Linked DNA regions of Homo sapiens. The protein of the gene in region 2 purifies or fractionates together with the protein of the main gene of each other region. This does not show direct contact. Each region holds a gene or a part of one and is shown on either strand. Other genes may lie near its edges. The genes, in order: NHSL3, ABI1, EPS8L1 and CYFIP2.

The links.
Region 1: the proteins of ABI1 (region 2) and NHSL3 purify together in Homo sapiens (affinity purification with mass spectrometry; 3 studies listed by BioGRID and IntAct, with this or other methods). This does not show direct contact.
Region 3: the proteins of ABI1 (region 2) and EPS8L1 purify together in Homo sapiens (co-immunoprecipitation; 4 studies listed by BioGRID and IntAct, with this or other methods). This does not show direct contact.
Region 4: the proteins of ABI1 (region 2) and CYFIP2 purify together in Homo sapiens (co-immunoprecipitation; 4 studies listed by BioGRID and IntAct, with this or other methods). This does not show direct contact.

Annotation. Positions count from the first base shown.
Region 1 is NC_000001.11:32,737,279-32,744,852, reverse strand, and holds the start of NHSL3 (NHS-like protein 3), read right to left. Parts: upstream 3,024-7,574; 5' UTR 2,899-3,023; coding exon 2,664-2,898; intron 1-2,663. UniProt on the Homo sapiens protein: Able to directly activate the TNF-NFkappaB signaling pathway.
Region 2 is NC_000010.11:26,746,080-26,752,965, forward strand, and holds the end of ABI1 (abl interactor 1), read right to left. Parts: intron 5,705-6,886; coding exon 5,519-5,704; intron 2,667-5,518; coding exon 2,491-2,666; 3' UTR 517-2,490; downstream 1-516. Other genes in the region: all trans-polyprenyl-diphosphate synthase PDSS1, read left to right, coding at 254-394. UniProt on the Homo sapiens protein: May act in negative regulation of cell growth and transformation by interacting with nonreceptor tyrosine kinases ABL1 and/or ABL2. May play a role in regulation of EGF-induced Erk pathway activation. Involved in cytoskeletal reorganization and EGFR signaling.
Region 3 is NC_000019.10:55,078,853-55,085,875, reverse strand, and holds part of EPS8L1 (epidermal growth factor receptor kinase substrate 8-like protein 1), read right to left. Parts: intron 6,878-7,023; coding exon 6,819-6,877; intron 6,187-6,818; coding exon 6,025-6,186; intron 5,748-6,024; coding exon 5,598-5,747; intron 5,496-5,597; exon of another isoform or gene 5,383-5,495; coding exon of another isoform or gene 5,335-5,382; intron 5,105-5,334; coding exon 5,022-5,104; intron 4,646-5,021; coding exon 4,384-4,645; intron 4,104-4,383; coding exon 3,977-4,103; intron 3,785-3,976; coding exon 3,696-3,784; intron 3,602-3,695; coding exon 3,527-3,601; intron 3,423-3,526; coding exon 3,274-3,422; intron 2,499-3,273; coding exon 2,357-2,498; coding exon of another isoform or gene 2,261-2,356; coding exon 2,232-2,260; intron 2,110-2,231; coding exon of another isoform or gene 2,094-2,109; exon of another isoform or gene 1,634-2,093; intron 158-1,633; coding exon of another isoform or gene 118-157; exon of another isoform or gene 36-117; coding exon 1-35. UniProt on the Homo sapiens protein: Stimulates guanine exchange activity of SOS1. May play a role in membrane ruffling and remodeling of the actin cytoskeleton.
Region 4 is NC_000005.10:157,269,102-157,276,124, reverse strand, and holds part of CYFIP2 (cytoplasmic FMR1-interacting protein 2), read right to left. Parts: intron 6,802-7,023; exon of another isoform or gene 6,542-6,801; intron 1-6,541. UniProt on the Homo sapiens protein: Involved in T-cell adhesion and p53/TP53-dependent induction of apoptosis. Does not bind RNA. As component of the WAVE1 complex, required for BDNF-NTRK2 endocytic trafficking and signaling from early endosomes.

The DNA.
Region 1 (7,574 bases), on a different chromosome or scaffold from region 2:
CGCCCAGCCTTTAATATAATTTTCATATGCTCTCTTGTGAGAATCTTGGTGAGACAGAAAGGTCACAGCCCATCAAGGCAATGTCCAGCCAGAGGATTCCCCCTTTCTTCCCCACAAGACAGTGGTGGAATCAGGGAGCCCACTGAGAAGTTGCTCATCCTACATCATGGGGCTTGCTAGTAGCTGGGCCAGGATTTAAACTCTCATTGGCCTGATTCTGATACTCTCCCCACTCTATCAAGTTCCCTCACTTCTCTCTCTGGGCCATTTCCCATCTGTAAAGTGAGTTGAACAAGAAGATCTTCAAGCCTTACCTGCTGCTCTATGTCCTTGGGAGAGTCATGAAAACAGTCCCGATTTTTGAGGCAGGTGATTTGAGTTTAAATCCGTTTGGTCAAATCAGTCACTCACTGTCCCTGAGCCTCAATTTTTTCATCTGCAAGTAAGATCTTGACATATTCAGACTAATCAATAAATGTCAGACTTCCTCTCTTCTTCTAAGTTTGTGCAGGGTAGTGAGGTCAGCAAGGGAATCATGGAAGACTGGTGCTCAAAACTCCATGACAAGCTCAGTTTTTCCATCTTAAAGTAGGAGAGTCAGATTAGAGGAATCAAGACCTGCCTCTCATAGGTCTTTGAGCCAGAGATTGGAATGGAGGAGATAATGACTTCCCCAGCAAAGATCCCTGACCTCCCAGGAATCTCCTGTGTATCCCTCCTCCCCACCTCTCCCAATCTCCATTCTGAACATTCTCCCTGAAAGAGTTAAGCCTTCTGCAGGCTTCCCGTTCCTGGCCAGCGTTGCCAGTGGAGATTAGTGGGATCAGATTTATTTCTCTTAATAAACAGAAAAGAAGTTGGGCCAGGCAGGTGACAAGGAAACAGTTGCAATAATAGGAGGCTGGAGTAAAAGGGAACAGGACTTCCTCCAGTCATACCCAGGGCCACCTCCAGACCTGGAGAAACAACAGCCAGGGGCAAGGAGGTGTTACCCATGCACGTGGGCTCAAATCAGGCCGACATGCTGCCCAGAAAGCCCAGAGCCACCTGATACCAAACACAAGGCAAGAGGGAGGCCTGGCCACTGACCCAATGAACCCAAACCCAGGCTGTTGGAGCAGTGACCTACAGGCTCAGCTTTTCCAGCCCCCTGCCTTCCAGGCTGGTCTCCCAGAGGAAAAAGGTCCATTGCCCTGGAGTATACACTGCTAGTCCACTAGCCTTCTGCCTGCCAATCCTGACAGTCTGACCACAATACATCCTGCTGCAATGCCCTCTTGAATGAGACGGGGATGACTTCAGACTGAATCCCAGTGGGGCAGCCCTGGGACAGACTCCATGTCCTGTTAGGACTGCAGAGGCTTTGGAAACACCCCTCACCCAAATCCAGTCCTCCCTCAGGGTTTGGCCCAGTCACCCCAGCCCCAGCACCCTCACTTCTATGTGTGGCTGTGCCGCAGGGAAGCAGGGCCCTTATCCAAAAGGAAGATCAAGCCGGATACAATCACACATGAGGCTTTCCACCCTCTTCCTGACCCCTAAAGTGTTCCTTCTAACTCTCCCAGAAGAGGTGGTTAAAGGACACTGGGAGGGTAAACACAGGCAGAATGGGATGGGCCCGCACACCCAGCCATTTCCTCACCTCCAGCACTGCAGCAGCAGTCTAGGAAAGGTGGACTTCCCAGGACAGCAAGCCCCAAGGGAGCTCCACCCTCTTGCAAAGACTCAAGCCCTCCCCATCAAAAGGAAGACAGAAACTGGAAAATGAGGGAAGGCCCAAGAAAGGAACTGAAAATGACCCCAGCAGGGATGGGCCAGGTCGGCTTCCCCGCCTTTCAGGCTGCCCGTCCAGGCCAGAGGAGGAGCCCAGGGACTCAAATTCAGAAAGACTGAGAATTAGCTGTTGAATTTTAAGTACCCACCCCAGCCCAGGTACAGCCTCTCCACTGAGCTTGGGCCTCAGTTTCCCCCATCTGTAAGCACACTTCCGACACTGGCATGTTTCTCCAGGGCTGGAAGAAGGAGTGATAGGGAGGGGCGGGTTGGTTCACCTTGGTGAGCTCACTACCCCAGGAGGTGATGTTTGTGGCCTGGCCCAGGTGAGCGTTGAGGGAGGCCAGGTGGGAAAAGCCAGCACTGTTAAGAAGCTAAGGCAGGGCACACTGTGCTCCATGTGAGGTCCTTTGTGGGGCTGGAAATCCAGATCCAGCTGGAGCTGAAACTCTTTGTGAGTGCGGTTGACCTTCCAGACCCAGAGGGTCCCCACCAGAGACCCAAGGCCACCTGTCTCTCCCATTGGCCACAGGCCAGCGTTAAGTCTCTGACCCCCTGACTCAGCAGAGGGCAGAACCTCGGTGAGCCTGGGGGAGGGGGAATCGCCTCACCGCCCTGGAGTCGGGCTACCAGCACTTCCTGCTCTGCCAGGGGATCCCTGCCCCAGCCGGGGGTCCCCTCCCCTCACAGCGGGGCAGGACTGGGTCTGGAAACTGCGGAAGGCAGCGCAGGGTGGAAGTGTTCGGACTCAGCCCTGGCCTCTTCGCTTTCCAGCACCAGCTCCTGGGGGTCACCCCCCTCCAACACGCCGCGCGCGGACCCCCGGCAGAGCCCCCTCGGCCGCACCCTCGACGCCCCCCCGCGCTCAGCCCAGGTGCCGACCGCCTTACCTCGGCCTTTGCCCTTGGCCCTCTTGGCCTTGTCCTCCGCCTTCTTGGCCCGGGGGGCGGCCGGTTCGGCGCCCTCGGCCCCCGCCGCCTTCTTCTTGCGCCGCTTGCCCCGCAGCCAGCTGAAGGCGCGGCGGAGGCCGGACGCGCCGGAGCGGGACTTCTTCCTGCGCGGGGGGCCGCCCGGGTTCCCCGGCTCCTCGGCCGCAGGTGCGGCGGGGGGCGCGCGGGCCGCCATGGCAGGCGGGGGCGGAGCGGGCGGCGGGTCAGGCCCCCTGCGGCGCGGTGCCCATGCCGGGGGCGGCCGCCGGGGACGCGCGCCCGGAGAAAAGTTTGGGCGGCGGAGGCCGAGCGGGCGCGGAGAGCGGACGGCGGGAGCGGCGCGGGAGGGGCCGGCCGAGCGGCGGGCGGGGCGCAGGCCGGCGGGGAGGGAAGGAGCGGGGCGGGAGCGGCCGCAGGGCGGGAGCGCCGCTGCCTGCGGCCCCTCCCCGCCTCCCCCGGTCCCGGCGGAGGGCGAGGTCCAGTCCCGAGAGGAGGGGGTCCCGGGAGCCCGGGGTCGTGCCCCCCGCTGGGGCCCGAGAGGGCGGGTCGTGGGGCCGCCCGGGAGGGGGCGGCACTGAGGTTCCGTCCCGCAGGGGGCACCGCGGGAGATCTGTTCGGAAGAGGGTGGTATGGGGTGGGGACGGAAAGGGGAAGGGCGCAGGAAAGGAGGAGCGAGAGGCTGGGGTTGGACCCCAGGAGACTTGGTATCCCAAGTTTGGGCTGGGAATAGACAGGGGATTCTGGAATATTTTTTCCTGGAATAAGGGAATTTGGAGAATTCCTTCCAAGCCCCGACAGTGTTGGGGCGCTTGCGCCAGGAATAGAGGCTTCAGACACGTCCAAGACCTGTGACCCGCAGTGGGCATTTCCCTCCCATCTGCTGACTGGGGTCGCCTCCTCGCTCTTTACCACACCTTCCAGGCTCCAACCATCTTCGGTGTGCAGCGGGGGCCCAGGTCCACTGTGTTCCTGCCTCACCCTTTGGTGGCAAGATGAGGATAGCCCTTCCTCCGTTTACCCTTGGACTAGGATTTGAGGCCCCAGGGCACTCCTGCCTGGACCAGGAGTTCCCACTGAGATGCTCAACACTAATTAGGGTTGAACTCTGGGCAGGTGAGAGGTGTGACTGGGAGGCTGGTAGGAAAGGAAACATTAAGAATCCTGAAATTGCTGTACTCATTGCCTACAGGCCTCTGGGTCTATTACAGCTGACCAAGCCCTTTTATATCATCTGATCCCACGACAACGGAAATGGAGGCCAGAAGGGGACAGAGGTGGTCAGCGGGAGAGGAGCCAAGATGGTCATCTGGGTTTTGTCTCAGGCTGGTCCAAGGCTTCAAACCCTAAGGACTAGAAATTGCGCTGGGGACCAGCTGTGGGTTCAGCACCCTTGAACCTCCTCCGTCAGTCCCCAGAAGGGCCTTGTGATGTCCATACCAGTGGGGTGGCCAGAATCACCCAATCTGACTCTGGTCACACGGCTTTCTCTTGGTCCTGGTCTCCACGAGGGCAGGGGCCCATTTGTCTGGGCCACCCAGCCCAGTCAGCCCCGGCGCACTGTAGATAGCACTCACCATAACATTGCAGGATTACTAGAGTGCAGTGGGATCTCCCTAACCTGCCTTAGCCCCCTGCATGTCCCCAGGGGCTCAGCTGTGGTGAACCTGGGACATCATTGACACTCTCCCACCTGGGGGCCCTGGGGCAGACCACCCAGTGTCCATGCTGGGCCTCAGTTTCTTGTCTAACCACCATTCATTCAGATCCAGCCCACAATCCCAGAGCACCCATTCTGGATCAGGAACCAGCCCTGTACTCTGGGTGCTCTTGGCCCAGCCTAGCACTCCTAAGAACCCAGCCTCTTCCTCTGTTAGTTGGTGAGGAAAGGGAATGTAGAGAATGCAGTTTTCAAGAGAAAAGTGTTACAGGTGCCAGGCATGGTGGCTCAGGCCTGTATTCCCAGCACTTTGGGAGGCCCAGGCAAATGGATCACCTGAGGTCAGGAGTTTAAGACCAGCCAGACCAACATGGTGAAACCCGGTCTCTACTAAATACAAAAACTTAGCTGGGTGTGGTGGTGCATGCCTGTAGTCCCAGCTACTTGGGAGACTAAGGCAGGCGAATTGCTTGAACCCGGTAGGCGGAGGTTGCAGTGAGCCAAAATTGCACCATTGCACTCCAGCCTGGGTGACAGAGCGAGACTCTGTCTCAAAAAAAAAAAAAAAAAAAAAAAAAAAAAACTTATTAAGAATTTCAAGGCCTGCCACAGTGGCTCATGTCTGTAATCCCAACACTTTGGAAGGCCAAGGTGGGAGGATTGCTTGAGCCTAGGAGTTCGAGACCAGCCTTGGGCAACATGGTAAGAGCTCATCTCTCCAAAAAAAAAATTGTTTTTCATTAGCCAGGTGTGGTGACAAGTGCCTGTGGTCCTAGCTACTCACTCGGGAGGCTGAGGTGGGAGGATCCCTTGAGCCCAGGAGGTCAAGGCTATAGTGAGCCATGTTCGCGCCACTGAACTGCAGCCTGCGAAACAGAGTGAAATCTTGTCTTTTTGTTGTTGTTGTTGTTTGTTTGTTTGTTTGTTTGAGACTGAGTCTTGCTCTGTCGCCCAGGCTGGAGTGCAGTGGCACAATCTCGGTTCACTGTAACCTCCACCTCCCGGGTTCAAGCGATTCTCCTGCCTCAGCCTCCTGAGTAGCTGGGACTACAGGCGCCCGCCACCACGCCTGGCTAATTTTTGTATTTTTAGTAGAGACGGGGTTTCGCCATATTGGTCAGGCTGGTCTCGAACTCCTGACCTCAGGTGACCCACGCGCCTCGGCCTCCCAAAGTGCTGGGATTACAGGCGTGAGCCACTGTGCCTGGCCTGACTTTGTCTTTTAAAAAAAGAATTTCAAGAGGCAATAGCAGGCCGGGCAAGGTGACTCACGCCTGTAGTCCTGGCACTTTGGGAAGCCGAGGCAGGTGGATCACAAGGTCAGGAGTTTGAGACCAGCCTGGCCAACATAGTGAAACCCCGTCTCTACTAAAAATACAAAAATTAGCCAGGCAAGGTGGCAAGCGCCTGTAATCCCAGATACTCGAGAGGCTGAGGCAGGAGAATCACTTGAACCCAGGAGGCGGAGTTTGCAGTGAGCCAAGATCACGCCATTGCACTCCAGCCCCGGTGACAGTGTGAGACTCCATCTCAAAAAAAAAAAAAAAAAAAATTAGCCAGGCTTGCTGGCAGGCGCCTATAATCCCAGCTACTCAGGAAGCTGCGGCAGGAGAATCACTTGAACCCGGGAGGTGGAGGTTGCAGTGAGCCGAGATCATGCCATTGCACTCCAGCCTGGGCGACGAGTAAAACTCCGTCTCAATAAAATAAATAAAAATACAAAAAAACTAGCAAGGCATGGTGGTGCTTGTCTGTGGTCCCAGCTGCTCGGGAGGCTGAGGCAGGAGAAACGCTTGAACCCAGAAGGCAGAGGTTATAGTGAGCCGAGATGGTGCCACTGCACTCCAGGCTGGAAAATAAGAACAAAACTCCGTCTCAAAAATAAAAATGCCGGGCACGGTGGCTCACGTCTGTAATTCCAGTACTTTGGGAGGCCAAAGAGGGCGGATCATGAGGTCAGGAGATCGAGACCACCCTGGCCAACATGGTAAAACCCCGTCTCAACTAAAAATACAAAAATTAGGCCAGGTGCAGTGGCTCACACCTGTAATCCCCGCACTTTGGGAGGCTGAGGCAGGCGGATCACCTGAGGTCGGGAGCTCGAGACCAGCCTGACCAACATGGAGAAACCCTGTCTCTACTAAAAATACAAAAATTAGCCAGACATAGTGGCGCATGCCTGTAGTCCCAGCTACTCTGGAGGCTGAGCAGGAGAATCGCTTGAACCTGGGAGGTAGAGGTTGCAGTGAGCCTAGATCGTGCCATTGCCCTCCAGCCTGGGCAACAAGAGCGAAACTCCATCCCAAAAAAAAAAAAAAATACAAAAATTAGCCGGGCATAGTGGCGGGTGCCTGTAATCCCATCTACCTGGGAGGCTGAGGCAGAGAATTGCTTGAACCCGGGAGGTGGAGGTTGCAGTGAGCCGAGACTGTGCCACTGCACTCCAGCCTGGGCGACAGAGCAAGATTCTGTCTCAAAAAAAAAGAGGCAACAGCAAAACATTCAACCAAGCACAGAGCCTTTCTGAGCATGGGCTATGCATAACTACACAGTTTGCATGCCTCTGAAGATAGCCCTGCCAGTGTCTCATATAATTCCTCAGGGAAATTCCCCTCAAACTAGAATTTCCAGGAATCAACCCACAGATTGGATCCTCTGATTTGCAGGTAGGGAGAGGAAGAAGGGAAATGAGGAGAGTTCAGGGTTATATTCCCTTCACTGCTCCTGACTCCAGCACCCAGAGACTCTCACTTCTCATCCCCAGCCCGGACCACCTTCAGACCAGCAGGCCCAGCTCTCCCTCTTGCCCCCTGGCCTAAAGGACAGACATGCTTCTGAGCCACCCAGGGAGGGCTAGCCTAGGAAGAGCTAGCCTGTGTCTCAGCTGTAGCTGGATCCGGCTCCCTGGAATAATGATTGCTCAGCTCAGCTACATGTCTTTGCTGGCCTTGCAGGCAGCGGAGGGAGCTGACTTCCCAGCAGTCCCTGTGGATAGGGCCCAAAGTTCAACCTGGAGCCAGGCTGTCACCTGACCAGGAAGGAAACTTCCAGCCTGTCCCCAGGGAGGAACCAGCAAAAACCAGGCTTGGGGCAGCATCCTAAGGGCCCTCCAACTTTGCCCCTCTGTTTGGGGAAAGCCCAGGACCACCCTGATGTTGCCCTCACACACACCAATCCCCCTTTCCACTTGGGAGACCTGCCTTCCACAGGAGCCA
Region 2 (6,886 bases):
GACTATGTAATATTGATGAGCTAGTTGCTTTGCATGCTAATAGAATAAAAATTTGCTTCAATATGAGAAAAAGGCCTAAAGGAAGTTAGCACTATGAGTCGGGAAAAGAACATTAGAGATGTAGTTTGACTGTTAACTGTAATCCTCAGCTCATCTGATCTCAAAACTATGTGTTCATTTATTATAGCAGGAAGTTAAAACGCTGATTCAGTCAGTGACAGGCATCTGTTCTGTTTTGTTCTGTATCTTATAGAGTGATGGTGTGCAACAAACAACCTACCTCGCCCAGCAGTACTGCCATGAAGCAATAAGAGAGATCAGTAAACTTCGACCATCCCCAGAAAGAGATGCCCTCATTCAGCTTTCAGAAATTGTACTCACAAGAGATAAATGACAACTCTTTCTGTTCTTTCTGGCAGCTATCTTACCAGACTGTGCCTAAAGAATTTTGTGGAATACACTTTGTTTGCTTCATGTGCAGATAACCAAAAATCATTTTAAAAGATATCAAACTTATTGATGGGCAATTTATTTTTTTTTATTGCAAAAGTTTTTTCAGAAAACTTTTTAAATGTAATTAATAAACCACCTGAATCTGTCATTCTAGTCCTATAAATTATAATCAAGGTATCTTGATGGTTATATGTGGTATTGTTTACACTGTTAATATCCACATGTAAGGCCATTACACAAATAAATAACCAATGTTAAAATTCAAATGGTTTGTCTTGATTTACCGTAGGAGTAAAGGTCAGAAAAATGTGAAGTCTGCATTGAAGTCCACATGAGTTATATTTTAACAGTATCCAAAATTTCATATAGGAGAATGGTTTATTATAAAAGACTGTACATAAAATTTAGACAACAGGTTATATACAAATTAAGAGAACAATCCACTTGAAAAATGGAAAGTAGAAGGTAGCTAGCTGATCACTAATGATACTTTGTTTGTTTAAAATTAACAAAGGCAAAATGCATATGAAATAGTCACATTGATTTGGTAGCAATAATGGTCTTTAATTTTCAGAAATAACTGTTTTGCACTAGTCTTACCATTCACTATGCTGTTATAAGTCTGTAGCATCCAGTACATAACTGTAATTTGAATTCCAAACAAATCCTCAATAACACAGAAACCCACACTTGAGTGCTCTACTTTAATATCCTAAGCAATAGAGAATTATACACAAGACAAGAAGAGAAAACATCCCTCAGCCCTCCCTTCAATTAAGAGGAGACACACAAAGTGCATGTGTTGCATTTTGATTATGTCAAAAGACAATCCAAGTCTGTTGGTTAGGTAAATCTCTGTTCACTGATTAATACATGACCCACCTTCTTTCCCAATTATTTTATTTTAAAATTCTAATGTTGCTAGTGCCAGGTAATGGATTAAAGAGTGCCTACTCACAAATCAACTGTATCCACTTTTACAATATGTAAAAGGTACTTTTAACTTCCTTTCATTGAACCAGTGTACAACAGTTCACTGTACAACTGAAGGACTGACATGGCAATCCTTAAGAATTTTACCTACAGAATGAATGCACACAATTTGACACATTTTCTTAGTTTCAAAAGATTATTTAAAAAAGGAATTCAGTAGATTGACTTGTAAATAACCATTGCAGATTTTGAATCTGCAAAAATCCGTCACATTGCTGTTGGGACAGATTAAGATAAGGCTAAAATTTTTTTCCAAGTTAACATATTGAGAAAATAGAATCATAATTCTGCAATAAATCATTATCTTTTATTTTTTTTAAAGCAAATCAGTGAAGGAAAGGACAAAAACCTTTGGTTCACTTATGTATTTATGAATGGAAAAAGTTTATAATGCAAATTTCACTCATTAAAAAACTTAGGTACAAATTACAACATTACAGATAATTCTCTTTTTGCTTGTTTCACATGGAGACCTTGGAGACTCAATTCACGTTAAGACACCTAAGTACGAGTCCTCCAGGTAAATATTACACAAATGGGAAGCATCTTGAATTTTTAAGTATATTTCAATACATAAATTTTTATGCATGCTTTAAACAAACAGTATTTTTTTTAAATGAGAGAATCTAACAAAAAAAGTCTGACCAGCACCAGCATTTAAATTTTCTGATTTTAATATTAGTCTGACATAGCGTTAGTAACCATGCTGCACTGAAACATGTAATGGTACAATCTGAATCATGATTCGTTAAATATTATACCCCACTTCCCCCAGAATATTTAGGCTGGTCATAAAGTTAAAAATGTGTAAGTAAGTACATAAGCATAATCAGTTATGGACAGCTTCTTGTATAAATTGCTATTCAGCAATACATAAACTGCCTCAAAGATTTATGCTTACAGGTAGACATTCAATTTACCAATAAAACAGCATGTTCTGAAAATATGGGCACATTTTAAAACATATTAAGACAGTTCTGTTAACCATAATAGTCCCACAGTATGACTGAGTAATAAGAATCTACTTCAAAAGAAAAAAAAAAATTAATCAGTATAGTGCATGATTGATTCAACATAGTTCCCAGGGAACAGACCAGTCACTCGATTGCAGACTCCTTCATACCAGCCATCATCATTCTTCTTTATAACATAAATGATTGCACCCTCCATAAATGACAGCTCATCATCCTTGTCTTTTGTATAATCATATATTGCAACAACTATGGAAAAAACAGTTGAAATATCACATGAGTGCACTATATCCAAAATTTACTTGAATTTTAAGACAAAGACAATTAAATATATAGCACAGCAAAACTATTTTTATGAAGATTTCTTAATTTTTGTATCTATCAATATAAGTAGGTCAGTGGCCAACCATGTACTTAAATCATTGGCTTAATCTTAGAGCCAAATGACAATCTGATTAGACTGAATACATCAATAGGTTCTGTCAATCACTTTAAGAAAGCTCTCTGAATTTTAGAATTTATTAGATGTTTCAATTCATTCAAATACCAAGTGCCTATCATATGCAAAGCACCGGCTTTTCAAAATAATTATCAGGCAAAGAAAGCTGCATAGCCATTCAGTAAACCAGGTAACAATCCAAGCTATCTAATTTGAAAAAACACAGTTACTGGAAGGTAAATCACATCCTACTCATTCAAGGACCCATGCTAATTTAAGGGACTGTCCCCAGATTTTTTTTTAAAGAATATTTACTTACTTTAAAGGATTTTAATTAATACTTAGAGAACTTTGCAATTCTGTGGTGTCTGTAATTTTTTCAGTTCAAGATACAGGTTGAGTAACCCTTATCTGAAATGCCTGGGATCAGAACTGCTTTGGATTTGGGATTTTCAGATTTTGGAATTTTACATATGCGTAATGAGACATCTTGGAGATGGGACCCAAGTCTAAACACAAAACTCATTTTTGTTTCACATACACCTTATACACATAGTCTGAAGGTAATTTTATTTTTCCCTTGGGAACACTGAATAAACTGTGTCATGTGCCTGCATTTTGATTGTGACCCATCACGTGAGGTCAGGTGTGGAATTTTCCACTTGCGGCATCATGTTGGAACTCATTTTGGATTTTGGAGCATTTTGAATTTGGGACTTTCAGATAGGGATGCTTAGCCTATATTCACTTCCTTTGCAAACTGCTATGGAAAGAGAAAGTAATCCAAAATGTATAAAATGGCCCATGGACAAATCCAAACCACGCAATTTTTGTAAATAAAGGTTTATTGCAATATGGCCACATCTACTTACTCATGTATTGTCTATGTCTGCTTTTACGCTACAATAGCAGGACTGAGTAGTTGTGACAGAGACTGTATAGCCAGCAAAGTTTAAAATATTTACTATCTGGCTTTATACCAAACAAAGTGTGCTCACCCCTAGTTCTTGGGAATATACTTTTTAATCCTCCTCTACTATCAAATATATTACCCAATATATCATTCCAAATTTGTCAACTTATATAAATATGGTCCCATTTTCACAGTTAATTGGCTTCACCAAGTAAGAAAATATGGGTAAAAACACAATTCAAGGTCACTCAAGTTTATCATCCTCGTAAGTAACAACAGCTCTCTATTTGAAGGTATATGGGAATCTCAAGTAGAATATTCAAGACTTTCTTAACAATATGTAAATTACTTACTGTTTAAAAATATAAGGCCACGCTCGGCTCATGCCGGTAATCCCAGCACAGGGAGGCTGAGATGGGCGGATCACTTGAGGTCAGGAGTTCAAGACCAGCCTGGCCAACATGGCAAAACCCCATCTCTACTAAAAATACAAAAGTTAGCTGGGCGTGGTGGCGGGCACCTGTAATCCCAGCTACTTAAGAGGCTGAGGCAGGAGAATTGCTGGAACCTGGGAGGCGGAAGTTGCAGTGAGCCGAGATTGCACCACTGCACTCCAGCCTGGGAGACAGAGCAAGACTCCATCTCAAAAAATAAAAAAATATAAAAGGAAAACAAATTTACTTTTGCCACATATCCAAAACTTGGGCAGGAAAGAATGCTGCTGGTCTCAAGAGCTACATCTACTAGCTTAAAGTCCGTTAACCCAGTAAAGTCAATAGAAGGAAATATATTTCAAAGGCAACCAAAAGTGTTCAACTAAATCACAAGCATTTTTCAGAACTCTATAGAAATACAGATTTTATTTTTAATTGATTCCCACTTCTGCAAAAAGAAATACAGATTTTAAAATAGCACAGAACTGGATGAAAAAATAAAAACTAGAAACAGGATTTGTTTCTTCCCCACCTATATTTCTTAATAGATAATTATAGTGAATATCGGGTACTATAGGTAAATTAGACTTTAGAGTAGTTCATAATTTCATGAAATACAATCCTGATAATTTCTCTTGTGTTTTATAAAATCACCTAATTGAAACCTTAATTGAGGCTTTTCTCATGATAGTACTAATATATTTTTAAAGACCGATGCTCCTCCACTTACATACAATGGGGTTATGTCCCAATAAACCCACTGTTTAGTGGAAAATATTGTAAATTGAAAGTACATTTTCAACTTGTATTTTTTTTACTTATAACAGGTTTATCCAGACAAAGCTCCATCATAAGTTGAGAAGCATACTGAATGCATATCATTTTTGTACCATCATAAAGTTGAAAAGATCCTAAAGTGAACCATCATAAATCAGGGACCGTCCATATTTAGATATGAAAGGTAATCAATAGAGCTTGACAGAACTTTTAAAATCTTTACTAATTACATATAACTCCATTTTTGTGCCTTAGCTGTTTCATCTATAAAATGCCGTCCAGCAAGTTAATCTTCAGCTGAACGCATATGTAGTTTGAAAGCAAATCTAACACTGCAACTTTTATTTAAAATACAAAGAAAGAATCCCCCTGTACACTGGGAATAATACAAAACTTAGGAAGTAAGGTTTAAGTAAATCATCTTGGTTGGTAAGGCAGTTTAAAAGGCTGAGAAACATTGGATTAGATGTTCTTTATAGTTCTAAATTTCTACAATTAGGTTATTTTCCTTCACATCAACTCAATGACTGTACCTTACCTTTCTCAATATAATTCTTGGGGGCCCAAGCAGGATCCCCATCTGCATATGGATCATTATACTGAACTACTGCAGCCTCCTCATCTTCATAATCCACTGGTGGTGGTGGTGGGGGAGGTGGAGAGTCATCAAACATGGGAATGTCATCTGGTGGAGGTGGTGGCGGTGGAGTTGGACTATCAGCAACTAAAAAGATTCATATGATTGATTTGAATCAAAAATAAGTCTAGATGGAAACTTATAAGTTAACAGAATTTAAGAAAGCTCTAACTTAAGTACAGCATGCACTATAATAAAACATGCAATGATTAGAAATAAAAGCTTGGTGTGTTAAAGTTTATGCTACTCAAGAATCATTTAAAAATAACAAAATGAGCTAAAAATAAGGGTATCTGGAAGTACTACAAATTAATGAATGCAGGGTGTTAGGAGACAATGTCTCTTTTTATAAGGATTATAGGAGTAGTTTCCTTATTCCAAGGTTCAGATCGGGACAAATGTTAACAATCTAAAATAAATCTATGTCACTTTTGTCATTTGGACTGCAGTAATGATATGAGTAACATTACGTTAATGGTTTGATCACTCTTCACTCTGCTCATTCATGCCCCTGATTTTGGCTTGAAACAGCTTTGGTTCCCTAAAAATTCAGTCTCCTGTGGACAGATTTTTGTTTCTTTGTTGATTATTGTTTGTTTTGATGAAGAGAAAAGTAAAGTTGGTAGTATTAGGTCTGCTTCTGTGTGCAGATTTTCTACTCTGTTATTTACATTTTACAAGTTGAAAAAATGGAAAAAGAATCCCCAACCAGTAGAAAATCTAATTGAGTATTTTTAAAAAGGTTTATATTCATAATTAGTTTTTTAATGTAGAAAGCAAGCTAAAATTTTGCATTATTGCTAGTAAAACATAAGCACGGGATGAGGGAAAGCCTAGATCCTAAAGATTCGATTTTCTAAGAATACATCAACAATTAAGATTTAAACATAAAGTGTTGAAGATGTAATTAAAAAAAACAAACAAAAAGGAACTTACAGTAAACAAAACAATAAAAATGACTCATACCTCAAACTCTAGATGGTCGTGGTCAGTATATATGTGTGTGCTTTACACAGTCAAAGGTGTAAACAGGGAAATGGGAAAATGTCAGGCTAGAGCTCTGTTCAATGAACTAGTATAATATCAGGTAAAAATGCTCCTAAAATTTAAAGAATTCAAAGCTGGAACCCAATTAATGCTTAACTTAAATTTCTGATCAATAAATTTCTTTAAAAGTTCAAAAGACATATGAAAATGTTTTCATACAAATTGATACAGGAATTACATAATTCCTGCAGGGGAGAAGTTCATAATACAAACATACTAAAT
Region 3 (7,023 bases), on a different chromosome or scaffold from region 2:
GCTGAGGCTCAGATTCTGGCTCCAAGTCTCGGTGACTGAGGAGAAGCGGGAGGGTTGGAGATAAGGAGGCAGCCAGCCCCATTGCTCTGGGCTGCAGGGTGCTGGTGTGAGCTGGGGTTAGAGCCAAGCTGGGGGCACAGCAGGGGCCGGGTTAATACTGTTAATAGAAATTTGAAACAAGAATAACAGACTGAATATATTTGCTCCCTCCGTTGCTTGGCATTGTGCTGTAGGCATATGTAGTGGGTACTATCCCACCATCGATTCCATTTTACAGAGGAGAATGAGGCTCAGAGCGAGAAAATGACTTGCCCACATCACACAGCTAGAAACAGCTGTCATTTATTGAGCATCTAATAGGCACTGGGCTTTATATATCATAACTCATAAGCATAATAAAAACACTAGCTAGGCCGGGCGCGGTGGCTCACGCCTGTAATCCCAGCGCTTTGGGAGGCTGAGGCGGGCAGATCATGAGGTCAAGAGATCAAGACCATCCTGGCCAACATGGTGAAACCCTGTCTCTACTAAAAAATACCCAAATTAGCTGGGCGTGGTGGCACGCGCCTGTAGTCCCAGCTATTCTGGAGGCTGAGGCAGGAGAATTGCTTGAACCTGGCAGGCAGAAGTTGCAGTGAGCTGAGATCTCACCACTGCACTCCAGCCTGATGACAGAGTGAGACTGTCTCAAAAAACAATAGCTACCACTTCTGTACCACTTACTGTGTGCTGGGCACTGTTCTGTTACGTATATTAGTTAATTTGATCTTTATGACAACGGTTGGTAGAACCATGAATTTGGACTCCCCTCTCTCCCCCAGTTTCTTCCTCCCCCAGAGACCCTATGATCTCCTCCATTTTCACAGAGGAGGAAGCTGAGGCACAGGGATGTAAAGGTCACAGAGTAAGAGAGTGGCATCGCCAGCCCGGGACCAGGGTAGCCCAGGTCTGAATAATGCTGCCTTAGTTTGCAGGCAGCTGGACTTGAACTTGAACCTGGTCACAGCCTTAAGCCCTTAACTGCTAGTTCCTACAACACCACAGACTTCTCACTGTTCCGGGAACGGATAATCATTATTCCCAGTTTCCCTGCAAAAAAGAACTTGAGGCTCGGAGAAAGTGACTTGAAGCTGTGAACAGGGACCAGGGTTGCGATATCAGGCAGCTGGGGGCAGGGGTGGGATTTCAGCTCTGACCCCCAATAAGAGGGACCTCAGCCTGGATCAGGCCTACCTGTGCAGGGGAGAGGGGGGGTCTTCAGGGCCGCGGCACCCCCTGTGTGGGGCCGGCAGCTCCCAGCACGCTGTCCCTGCTGAGACCCTCTGCTCGGGCCCTCACCCAGACCCCCCTTTGTCTCCTCCAGCCTCACTGCTTTGTTTTCGTCTCCTCCCACGTTGCTTCCCTCCAGTCTGCCCTCTATTTGCTCAAGGACCCTAGAGTTCTAGTCCATCTACCTCCTTCCCTCCCCCAGGACCCAGAGTCTGAGCCCCCACTGCTTGGTAGAACCATGACTTGGAATGTTCTTTCCTCCCCCAGGGACCTAGGAGTCCAGGTCTCAAGCTTCAATCTTATCCTTTTAACCCTCAAACCTTTTAACCCAGTCCGACACCCAGCAGCGACTTAGACAATTGCATTAGAGCCTCTGGAAAACCAAGAGTTTAATCGTCCAGCCTTTACCCCTCTCGGGGGCCCAGAGATACTACCACTTCCTAACTTTCCCAGAAACTTGCCCCCAAGCCCTTGAAGTCCCAAGCCTGCTCCTCTGGGTCTCCAGGATCCCAAGCACCAGACTTGGGCTCTTCTTCAAAACCCAAAGGTCCAATTCCCCAGCCTCTCCCCTCCAATATCCAGGGCTCTGTCCTCCTAGGGAGCCCAGGCATGGTGCTTCCCAGGCCCTGGGAAAACAAACTGGCTTCTTCCAGCCTTTTGGGGATCCAGGGATCCAACCTCTCAGACTTTACCCACTCCCAGCCCCCTTCCTCCCTTAGGCCCAGGAATCCGGGTCTCCATTCCCAACTCCCTTAGCCCCAGAAGTCTGGGTCCCGCCCCCTCCCACCCTGCTCCTCCCTCTCTCCCAGCCCCGGCCCGCCCCATCACCATCTCACCCACCTGAGAAGAGCCAGGAAGACAGAAGGAAAAACACAGAAAAAAAGGGGGCGGAGTCAGCATCGGGAGCCCCCGGGACGCACCCCTCCTTGACCCCCTTGCCCTGCCCTGGGGCGGACACTCACCCATTGACAGCGACCTGGGGGGCGCTTTGCTGTAGGAAGTAAGACAGTCGGGTCAGGCGGGGCCAGGCGGACCGGCCGCGCCCCCGGACTTCCCAGCCTCGGCCCTGCTGTGTCGCTTGGGTCACCTGCCGGCGCCTCCGCTCGTGCTGTAGCTGTTTCTCAACTGGGTCCTCCCAGGCGCGGCTCTGCGGGTCAGTGACCGGCGGCTCCCAGCCGCTGAAGAACTCGGGTCTGTATGGGGGTCCCTCCTCCGGGGACAGCTCCAGCCTGCGGCCAGGGACAGGGCCAAGAGCTCAGGGATCCTGATACAGCCCCCAACTTCGTTCCTGCATTAACTTCACTAAGTTTTCCCCTAAAGCTCGCTGTATTCCAACGATTCTAGCCCCGCCACTTTTCACCAAGTCCTGCCGGTAGCTCTAAGCCCAACTCAACAGCAATTTATATTTCTAGACCGGGCACGGTGGCTCACGCCTGTAATCCCAGCATTTTGGGAGGCCAAGATGGGAGGATCGCTTGAGGCCAGGAGTTCCAGACCAGCCTGGGCAAAATATTGAGACCCCATCCATCTCTCTCTCTGGAAAAAAATTGCCTTATCCAGCCTCTAAATCTCACCTGATTCCAAATCAGGTTTTCCGTAAGGTCGGTTTCAGGTTCTGACCCTTTCCCTGCGGAACTGCCAGCCCGCAGTGCACAGACTCTGTCCCATCACCAAAGTTATAGACCAAACCTTCCAGAAGCCCCGCCCCTTCGCGTAGCCCCGCCCCTGCCCCGTAGCCCCTAGCCCCTCTATTCCTTTAAGCCCCCCTTTTCTTTCAATCCGATTGGTCTGGTGGTCTTAAATCTTTCCTTCACGTTAATTCCTGGCCTTTCCTCCAATTGAATCTTGGCATCTGTCCTAAGCCCCGCCCCAACACAACTAAGCCACGCCTCTAACCCCTCCCTACTCTCCTAGTCCTATTTTCCAATCATCATGCCACCCACCTCCCAGCGCCTTATGCTCCTCCAATCACCATGCCCCCTGCCTCCCAGCCCCGCCCCTCACCCGGGGCGGGTCCACGAGTCCCCCAGCGAGGTCCAGAGCTCGTTTTCACGTGGAGTGACGTTGTCCCGCAGCAGCGCCACGGCATCCGATGTCAGATGCGGCCGCCGCACACTGCTCGCGAACTCCGGCCCCCCCGACGTGTTCACAATCTGTCAGGGGAGCAGGAGGGGCAGGCTGTGCCGCCACACCTTCTACAAGTCGAACCCGATTCCTCCCGCTGCAGGGGGGCCCGAGGGCCTGGGGCGGGTCTCACCATCTGCAGAGGCCCGAAAAGGAAGTGCAACAGCTCCGGAGAGGAGGGGTCGGCGATGTTGCCGCGCAGCCGGGCCTGGGGCGTGGGGAGGGAGGTGGTTGGCGTGGGTGCGGGGACGGGACAGGTTCGTCGTGCCCGCGCCCCGGCCCAGGGGCGGGCGCGTCCTCACCAGCAGGCTGAAGGCGTACTTGATCTTCTGCAGCACGTCGGTGTACTCGGCCTCCGAGGGCGGCTTGGCCCGCAGCGTCAGCAAGCCCTCTGAGGGGAGCAGACGGGCGCGGCGATGGGGACGCGGGGCCAGCACCAGGCAGGCAGAGAGAGGTGGACACCCGGTTAAGATGGCGGTGAGGTCAGCCCTGGCAAGTGGCGGGAGGGGAGAGCCTGGGGAGAGCGGGGACATTTGGAAGAGATCGGGAGGGGGTTCAGATCCCACGCCAGGGTGCCCCTTACCCCCAGCCGCCCGGCGCCGGCTCCTGCGGCCGCGTTCCCGGTGCTCCAGCACCCTGGCCGCCTCCGCCGACTTCTGCAGCCTCGATACAAAGCTCTCTACGTCGTCGAACACGTGGTTCAGGATGTCCTAGGGGACAGAGGAGGGGGACGCTCAGGGCTCCCGAGTTCCAAAACCATCCCCGTCGAAGCCCTGAACCTGAGCACCTATACACTTCCCCAGATCAGGCCACGCCCCAAACACCTGGCCACGCCCCACAACCAAGCCCCGCCCCCGACCCAGCCCCTCTTCCATAACGCAGAAGTCTGACCAGAGAACGCCCGTCCCGCAGCCGGCCCCGCCCTTCCACGCCCTAGCCCCGCCTCCAGTCGCCTGGCCCTGCCCCCAGACCCCTTCCTTAGCGGCTCACCACTTCCCGCTCCGCCTGCAGAACCGCCAGGTCAGGACCCCGGGGACCCAGGTCCGGGGAGGCCGAGTCAGCGTTGCTCGAGGTCCCCACCGGCTCAGGCCTCTGCGCCTCCTCTGCCTCGGGAATGGGCTTCGCCTGGGGTCGTCCGCGGCCCGCGCCCCGCTCTACGGTGCTGATCACTGCGCGGACTGACGGGCGGCGCTGCAGGGGCGGGGTCTCAGCGGCGGGCGAGCGGTCGCGCTGCAACTCCTCCTGCGTGGCCCTGCGGAGGGCGACGGGGACACCAAGACTGGGTCCACTGAGGGGTCCAGGGAGGGGGAAATCCAGGGCGCAGAACGAGACACACAGGCTCAAAAGGCTCAAAGGGAGTGAACAAGTTCAACGAGGTAGGGAGAAATCCGATATACGGAGGGATAGCACCTCTCTAGAGTGAAACTGAGGGCCTGGACAGGGAACAGAGAAAAGAAGCAGAGTTCTGGAGAAGGGGTCAGCTCGTCTGGGAGGTACAGACAAGACTCGACTAGGGTGTGCTTGACTCCATGCAAAACTCTTGTTCTGTTCCAGGCTGGTGTTGTAGACTGAGGCACAAGGAGGGGAAACCGGCTTCCCAGAGACCCTGCCAACTTCTTCCCTCTCACCTGAGCGCCGCCGCCCTGCGCTCCCCGCGGCCCGAGCGGTAATTGTGCAGAGCCCCCTGGATGTCCTCTCGGATCAGCTCCGCCTGCCAATCACACCGTCAGGCCACGCCTCCCCACGCCGCACCCACTTCCTACCCGGGCCTCGCCCCTGGCCGATTTTTCAGCTCAGTCCCAGCCCACGTGCGGCTACCGTTCACACCTGTGAACCCACGCACGTCCACGCCCCGAACTCACCCCTCGCCCTACACCTGTCCCTGCCCTAAGCCACGACCCCGCCCATGGAGACCCAGTCCGGGTGGTTCCTCGCCCCCACCTCGTCCTGGCTGCTCCCCCAGATCCTTCTTGGCCATGTTCTGTTCATGTCCTCATCCCACCTTCATGTTCTATCTTGACCCTGGGTCCAATCTCAAACCCCACTGCCTTCCAGAACTTCCTTCCCAGGTCCCCTGCCCTTCCTTGCTCTGATCCCGCCTTAGCCCCAGGCCCCGCCCCACCTAGAGGCCCCACCCATTTCCGCCCCGGCTCCAGGCTCCGCCCAGTTCCAGCTCCACCCCCAGAGCCAGCCCATCTGCTCACCCCGAGGCGCAGGCCCTGGAAGAAGTGCACGTCGGGCTGCGCGCGCTCGGGTTCCTGGCACACGAGCAGCAGCAACGAGCGGCTCCTGCCGGGTGGCATCACCGCGTCACAGCGCACGATGGCGCCCAGTGGGTACGACTCCAGCTCCTCCTGCCGGGTGGGATGGCGGGGTAAACTGAGGCCCCGAAATGATGGTACTACTAAATGGCGACGGGAGTGTGGGCCAGCAGGTCAGGGCAACCTCAGGCGGTTAGGGGGTTAGGGATAACAGCCCTGTTTAATAGATGAGGCTATTAAGGCTCAAGAAGGGGGCTGGGGTCCCTCGCCAGAGTTCCCAGAGGAAGGACGTGCAGGAGCCAAGATTCACACCCAGACCCCCTGAAGTCCCTGCCCCAGACACTCCTCCCACCCACGTGCCCCCCGGCACCTTGGAGGCCGGGTCGAGCAGCGTGACATGGTCGGGAGACACTCGCAGCAGCATCTCCTGTGCCCAGACTCGGCCCTGGCTATCCATGACGGCCAACTTCCTGGAGGCATCCTCCACGGTATGCACGCCATCGTCCTCACCCAGGCAGAACGTCACCAGGTGCTGGTACGGACCATGGAGAAAGCAGTGAGGCCCAAGATGATGCCAGGTGGGCTCAGAATCCCCCAGAATAATCAGACTTTCAGCCTGAGACTAACCACACCTCCTCCAGGAAGCCTTCCTTGATCACCTGTTCCACAAATCAGCTCCTCCTCCCAGTGCCCTTTGTTTCCCTTTCATCAGAGTGACTAGCACCTGAGTCTGGCTTCTCACAGACTGGAGGCTCCTTGCGGGCAGGGAAGGAGTCTGGATTATAGCTCTCTCCTTCTAAATGCCTCCTCGGGTCTCCTGCCATGCCCCCTGCCACCTCCATTAGAGCACCAGGCGCCTCTGTGGATTCCTCTGGACCTTGTCTACCCCTTCCTCATGCAGGGCTGTGTCTTGATTTGCCTCCGTGGTCCCACTGTCCAGCACAACAGCTGGCCTGGAGGAAAGGCTGGCAGATTAAGTGGACCCGAGGCCCCTGGCTTCATATCCATGACTGAGGTGAGGCAACGGAGGTCCATTTTATGGATGGGCAAACTGACTTTCCACATGCTTCCTGCTTGGGGGCCTAGCTGCTTTCAAAAGCCCTATCTCCTGAGGCCACCTTTGCCCCAGAAGATGTCCTGGGGGAACACAGACCCCAGACTCACATTGACTGGGTACTGGGATACATCAGCCATAACAACTGTGGAGTAACGCTTCCTCTGCTCTGCCAGGGGAGAAAGAGAATGAGCCTGGGAGTCCAGGCCCAGCCCCTCCTCCATCAGACCCAGGAGTCCAGGCCCCCAGCCCCTCCTCCCTCAAACCTAGGAGTCCAGCCCCCCAGCCCCTCTTCCCTCTGACCCAGGAGTCCAG
Region 4 (7,023 bases), on a different chromosome or scaffold from region 2:
AGATTAGAAAGGAAAAAGTAAAACTATTCCTATTTGCAGATAACATAGTCTTGTTATAGAAAATCCAAGAAAAATCCACTAAAAACTATTGAAAGTCATAAACAAGTTCAGCAAGTTTGTAGGATACAATATCAGCATATAAAAATCAGTAGTATCTCTATATACCAGCAATGCACAATATGAAAATAAAATGGAGAAAACAGTTCTATTTATAGTAGCATCAAAAATAATACAATACTTAGAAATAAACTTAACAAAATAAGTACAAAACATACACTCTGAAAGCAATAAAACCTTGTTGAAAATATTAAAGACCTAAATAAATAAAAAGATATCCCATGTCCATAGGTTGGAAGGCTTAATATTGTTAACACGGCAATACTGCCCAAACTAACCTACAGATTCAACATAATCTCTATGAAAATCTCATCTGGTTTCTTTGCAGAAATTGACAAGCTGATCCTAAAATTCATATGGAAATTCAAGGGACTCACTCAGGATAATCAAGACAATCTTGGGGGTGGGAGGAACTGAACAAAAATGGAAGACTCACACTTCCTGATTTCAAAACATACTCAAAACTACAGTAATCAAAATTGTGTGGTGTTACCATGAAGACAATGAACAATGATTAAATTAATGGAATTGAACTGAGAATCCAGAAATAAATCCTCACATTTATGGTCAATTGACAAGAGATGTAGAAAGAATATTCTTTTCAACAAATGATTCTAGGACAACTGGATACCCACATGCAAAATTTGTTTTATGGTGTGAGGTATAAATAATGTAATATATAATAAATTAACTCAAAATGGATCAAAGATCTATGTAAGAGCTAAAACTATAAAACTCATAAGAGTACATCTTTGTGACCTTGAATTATGTAATAACAACAAAAACACAAGCAACAAAATAAAAAATAAACTAAACATCAAAATAAAAAAAATTGTGCTTCAAAGGACGCCATCAAGAAAGTAAGTCCACAGAATAGAAGAAAATATTTGCAAATCATGTATTTGCTAAGTATATAAAATATGTAAATAATTCTTGGCTGGGCACAGTGGCTCATGCCTGTAATCCTAGTACTTTGGGAGGTTGATGGGAGAATCGCTTAAGCCAGGAGTTCAAGACCAGCCTGGGCAACAGAGTGATACCCTGTTTCTACAAAAAAATTTTTTTAAATAAAAATAAATTTAAAAAATGAATTCTTAAAACTCATTAATAAAGAGAACCTGATTTTAAAAATAGGCAAGGAACAGATTTTTCTCCAAAGATATACACATAGCCAATAAGCACACAGAAAGATTAATAACCTTAGTTATTAGGGAAATGCAAATCGATACCACTTCACACCCACTAGGATGGCTATAATGAAAAGGACAGACAATAACAAGTGTTGGCAAGGATGTGGAGAAACTGAGAATACCGTTGCTAATGGGAATGTAAGATGGTGCCGCAACTTTGGAAAATCGATTGGTATTTCCTCAAATTTTTAAACACACAGTTACCATTTGACCCAGCAATTCTACTCCTAGGCATACACCCAAGAGAAATGAAAATACAGGTCCACACAAAAACTTGTACATGGATGTTCATGGCACCATTATTTGTAATAGCTAAAAAGCAGAACTAACATATGCATCAACTGATAAATAAAAAATTGTATAGCCACATGGAGTATTTTTCAGCCATAAAAAGTAATTAAGTACTGATATTGATACAACATGAATAAACTTTGACAATATTATGCTAAGTGAAAGAAGCGAATCATTAAAGACCCCGTATTGTATTGTTCCATTTATTAAACATGCCCAGAATAGGCAAATCTATGGTTGCCAAGGGGTGGGGTTGGGGGAAATAGGTGGTGGTGCTAAAGGCCATGAGATTTCTTTTTGGGGTGCTAAAATGCTCTAAAACTGACTACGATTATGGGTTGTACAACTCTGTGAATATATTAAAAACCACTGAACGGTTTTTTTTTTTTTTTTTTTTACACAGAGTTTCACTCTTGTTCCCCAGGCTGGAGTGCAATGGCATGATCTCACTCACTGCAACCTCTGCCGGGTTCAAACGATTCTCCTGCCTCAGCCTCCCGAGTAGCTGGAATTACAGGCACCTGCCACCATGCCTGGCTAATTTTTGTATTTTCAGTAGAGACAGGGTTTTGCCATGTTGGCCAGGCTGGTCTCAAACTCCTGACCTCAGGTGATCCACCCACCTTGACCTCCCAAAGTGCTGGGGTTACAGACATGAGCCACCATGCCTGCCCTGAACTATATTTTTTAAATGAGTGAATTGTACAGTATGCAAACTATATTTCAATAAAGCTGCTACCAAAAGTTAGTATTTTTATAACTACTTTTTGGGAAACTTTGAGTGTAACATAAGCAGAAGGGGTACAAAGAGAGCTGGGGGTAGAGTAGGAGCTTGGGGAGTTTGGGGACTGTAAATGATGCCCCTACAAGCAGAGGCTGTGGAGAGCAAAAACCAACGGGGATAGCAGGGGAGGAAAAGAGTAATAGATACAACCATACCACCCCACAGAGCAGCCCCCTAAACTGCAGGGGTGAACTAGACCATACAGGGCAGGCCCAGCTAGCTTGTTTGTTCCCTCCCCCTGCCCCTGCCTGTTTTGGTTTCTCTGCCATCTGTCAGGTCCTGGGGCTGCCCCACCCTGGAGTAAAGACTTCTCAGATAATATTAACTGAGGAGTAATAATATTACTGCCTGTGAGGTGGGTGGGGTGATAGGTTCTGAGGTTTAGAATGAGAACAAGAAGGGAGCCTAGCTCTCTTTCTACTGATGAGGAAACCAAGGCTCAGAAAAGAGAAGGGACTTGTGCAAGGTCACTGGGCTAGTTAGGGGTGGAGCTAGGGTTAACACTGCACTTCCTGAGAAGACAAGGGACTGCAATAGAATAACTCATATGACACAGAGCTTTAAAAGAAAAGGACAGGGCCAGGCACAGTGGCTCGTGCCTGTAATCCCAGCACTTTGGGAGGCCGAGGCAGGTGGATCACCTGAGATCAGGAGTTCAAGACCAGCCTGACCAACATGGTGAAACCCCATTTCCACTAAAATTAAAAAATTACCCAGGTGTCATAGCACACGCCTGTAATCCCAGCTACTCGGGAGGCTGAGGCAGGAGAATCGCTTGAACCTGGGAGGCAGAGGTTGCAGTGAGCTGAGATCACGCCACTGCACTCCAGCTTGGGGAACAAGAGTGAAACTCCATCTCAAAATAAATAAATAGATAAATAAAAAGACAAGTATTGCAACAAAAATTCTGCAGCGAAATGAAAAGCCCTCTAAGAAAGGAAATATAATCAAAGGACTTTACTTGGCTGTCTGTGATCATCATTTATATATATTAATAATGTAGACACTTTAAACCTGATTTAGGTTAAAATAGAGCTCTTCCTATCTTGAGAGACGGGGGCAGGGGAGGGAGGGAGATGGTGTAAGAAAGTGAAATCTCCATCCATCACAGCAGGAAGTAAATAGACAACGTGCAGAATAGATAAATCGAGAAACAGCAGTGTAAGCATATCATTTAGAGATCTGGAGGCAGCTACTAGAAGAAACAGTGAGTTAAAAGTGGCAGCCTCTAGGGGAGGGTGGGTGCTGGATGGTTGTTTTTCATTATAAGGCTTTCAATACTATTTGATTTTTTAAAACATTTGTATATATCGTTTTGATCAAAATTTAATAATTTGCTTTAGAAGACAACCACCCAAAGTCTCCTTGTTAGCAGTTCAGACACCTGGCCGGTACCCAGCACTGACTGGCAAGGTGGTCTTTGTTGTTTCAGTCCCCTGCTCCTGTCCTCCGGGACCAGAGGCCCTATCACCTACAGCTTCTCTCCACACAGGGGACCTGCAGTCAGAGCCGAGAAATCAAGTCAGCCTCGACTTGGGCCACTGGAGAAGGCCTATCCTCCTCGTTGTTTATGAGTAGACTGAGTAGACAGAGAAAAAGATCTTGGTGGGGGCTAAAGGACTTTCCCCTTCGTTTGCCATTTTGCCCAGCTGCTTCCTGTGTTGTTAAGGTTGAGGTGGCCTTTGTGGTGACACCAAACCAGGCTACCAGCAGCTCAGGGGAACGGCCTCATGCTCTCAGGAGGGGAAGTCATGCCACCAAGGTGGCTTGCTGATTTGCTCCTGCTGGGGCCCTGGGGCTGTCATATGAGGAACACCAACATGACGCGTATGTGGGGAGAGGAGCTGCCTCTCAGATGCACCTGCTAAAACTCACAAGGGAAGCCATGCATCTGCTACGGAAACAAAGAGGAGGGCTTCAGGTCTGGCCACCAGATCGGAGCACGTGGAACTCAGCTCCATCGATGTGAAACCACAACTCGAACATGGCTCAGTATGAAGACAAAGGCCCCCAAATCACATTTTCACTCACTCTAAAAGGGCAAATTTCTCTGTCTGTAAAATGTGGAGGTTAGCCTTGGTTCTCTCTCAACCATGATGTCCAAACCTGCCTTGTGAAGGTTATTGCGGGTAACTTGTGCTAATAATAGCTTAAGCACTGAGGTTTGCAAACAAGGTACATTTTATTGTATGTGAGGCGAGGGTTCAAGATCTCTGTGTGATATTATTGCTTGCATGTTCATCTCTTCCCTTGAGTGGCAGGAATGGAGCAGAGTTGGGGGGTTGGCTGTGGGGGCTGATGTGTTCAGCATGTCAACATTGTCCATTTTGTGTACTAAAAAAACCACAACAGCAACCAGTTAAGAATCACTGGATTTGGGCCTCTCTCAGGACCCTCCCAACACTAAAGCAAATGACCATGACTACAGTTGAGACATTCCATCCAAAGGGCTTCCTTAAAGACATGTGTTAAGGATCATGCAGACCATTCTCTGTGGCCAAGGTATACAGGGCATAATAAACCTGTCCAAGGATACTCTTCCTTTGTGCCTTTGCTCAAACTGTCTCCACTCCCTTATGGACTGTCTTCTTCCCTTCTCAAATCTTACCGATCTATCATGGCCCACACGAAGACATGCCTTTTCCACAAAGGTCTGACCAGCCAAGCCCCTTAATGACCTTTATTTCTCTCACTCCCTTAGCACTCACAGTCTAGAGTCCACAGTTTTTAACTGCACGACAAACTGCTTTATATTTCACTAATTCTTTGGATTGCTAAGAATGCCAAGGATAGTCATCTTATCTGAGTTTGACCCATAGCAACCAGCACAGAGATAGGCACACACCAGGAATTACTTGCTTAATTAATACTTCATGAATGATTTGTTGACTGCATGAGCCAATGACCAAAATTCTTAACTTCTGGTTTAAAAAAATTAACAAGAAAGTTAAAATATCATGCTTCTCTAAGGTCCCATATCCAAGGCTGCCTTGTCAATATAAGAATCTGAGGAGAGTTCTTTAGAAAATCCTTCTGTCGTATAGTTTCCACTTCAAACCCTAAGAAGCAGGTCCTCATTTCTCTTTCCCATATGGAAGTATAACAGACTTGGAGATAGGGGGCTGACCTCTAGTTCTGAATTCTTATCTTGCCATTCATATCTTGCCAAAACAAATCTTAAAGCATCATATTTTAAAAGCACAAATCAAAAATAGTTCTCGGATATTCCTTAAGAGTTACTGCATGTCTTCTCTGAGGGTCAGCCCTGCAAATTCTCTTTGATCTCAGCCAGGCCTTCAGTGAAGTTAGACAATTCTCTCATTCTTCCCCAGTTTATTTCTTATTCCACCCACATAGGCAACTGTTCCAAACCCTGAAGTCTCCTGAAGTTTCCTAACCAGTCCATCACCTTTATTTCCTGCAGAGGACCTCACCTCCTGCCTTACTTAGAAAACAGAGAACATGGACAGACTAAACACACCTCTGTTTTACCTAGAGATTAAAGCCTAAGAACCATTGCTCTACAATGACCAAATAATGACGCAAACAGAATCAAAAGGTCTACTGATGAAGTCATCACTGGGTCTTTCTCAGGCATCTCGCAAGAAGGTCCTATTTACTTCCCTCTCTCACTGCCTGTATCTGAGTTGCCCAAAGTCTATCAAAATGCCACGCAACCAGAATGATCCCTGCAAGAAATTCTGCCTGAACTCAAGCTCTGCCTTCTCAAAACAATTTCTTTCAAGAATTTGCACCCTCTGTTGCCAGGGCCCAAGTATGGCTTAAATGGCTATTTTTTGAGGTACATCACACACAGCCCTTAGCATAATGCCCATGGCTAGAAAGCCAATATCTAAGCTCTTTGCATCCTGGGAGGCGTCCCATACCCACTGACTGAATTCTGAAGTGTCTTTGTACAGACAAGGCCATCCAGGGGCCTTGACAGAATCTGTGAATCACAAAGTGCCTTTAAGCTTCCCATTGGCTCAACAGTACAGAGAGGCCACAGATCCATCTTCTTAAAGTGACACACAATATATAATTAATAAATTGTTTCTTAAGGAATGGAGGGCATTTACCCAAAAGAGTCACACATTCAGGAGGCTCCTTCTCTATTTCCACGGCTTTTTTTTCTCAGACTGGGATTTACAGACATTACCTCATCCGCAGGCTTTCATGATGACAGGCAGGTAACAGTTGGGCAGGCTGCCTTCCATTGCTCAATTTTGAACGTCAGAGAGGTAGTGGCTGGTTTAAGGGCACACAGCAAGTCAGGGATCCTGTGTCCCATGCTCACTGTGCTGCTCTGTCTGCCCTGGAAGCAAAGCATGCCCTCAACATTTTTGGATGGTTGCAAAATGCTGAATTCTCACAGAGGAAGAGGCCCTTCCTTAACTCTACGTGTTGAAATGTGAGAATGGCCCTGGGCTTCTGCTTGGCTTGTTCCCTCCCACTTCTCCCTACCTACTCAGGTTCCACCCACCTCTCTTGTGCTACTTAAGAGCACTTCCCACCTGAAGCCTTTCACTTCATGCCCTATCACTCTTAACTTTCCCTTCCTTCGGCCGGTAAACTTGGGGCTGGGTTTACTGGTCACAGAGACCAACTTCCCTCAAAAAAGCAAAATTCAGGAAAGCTCTG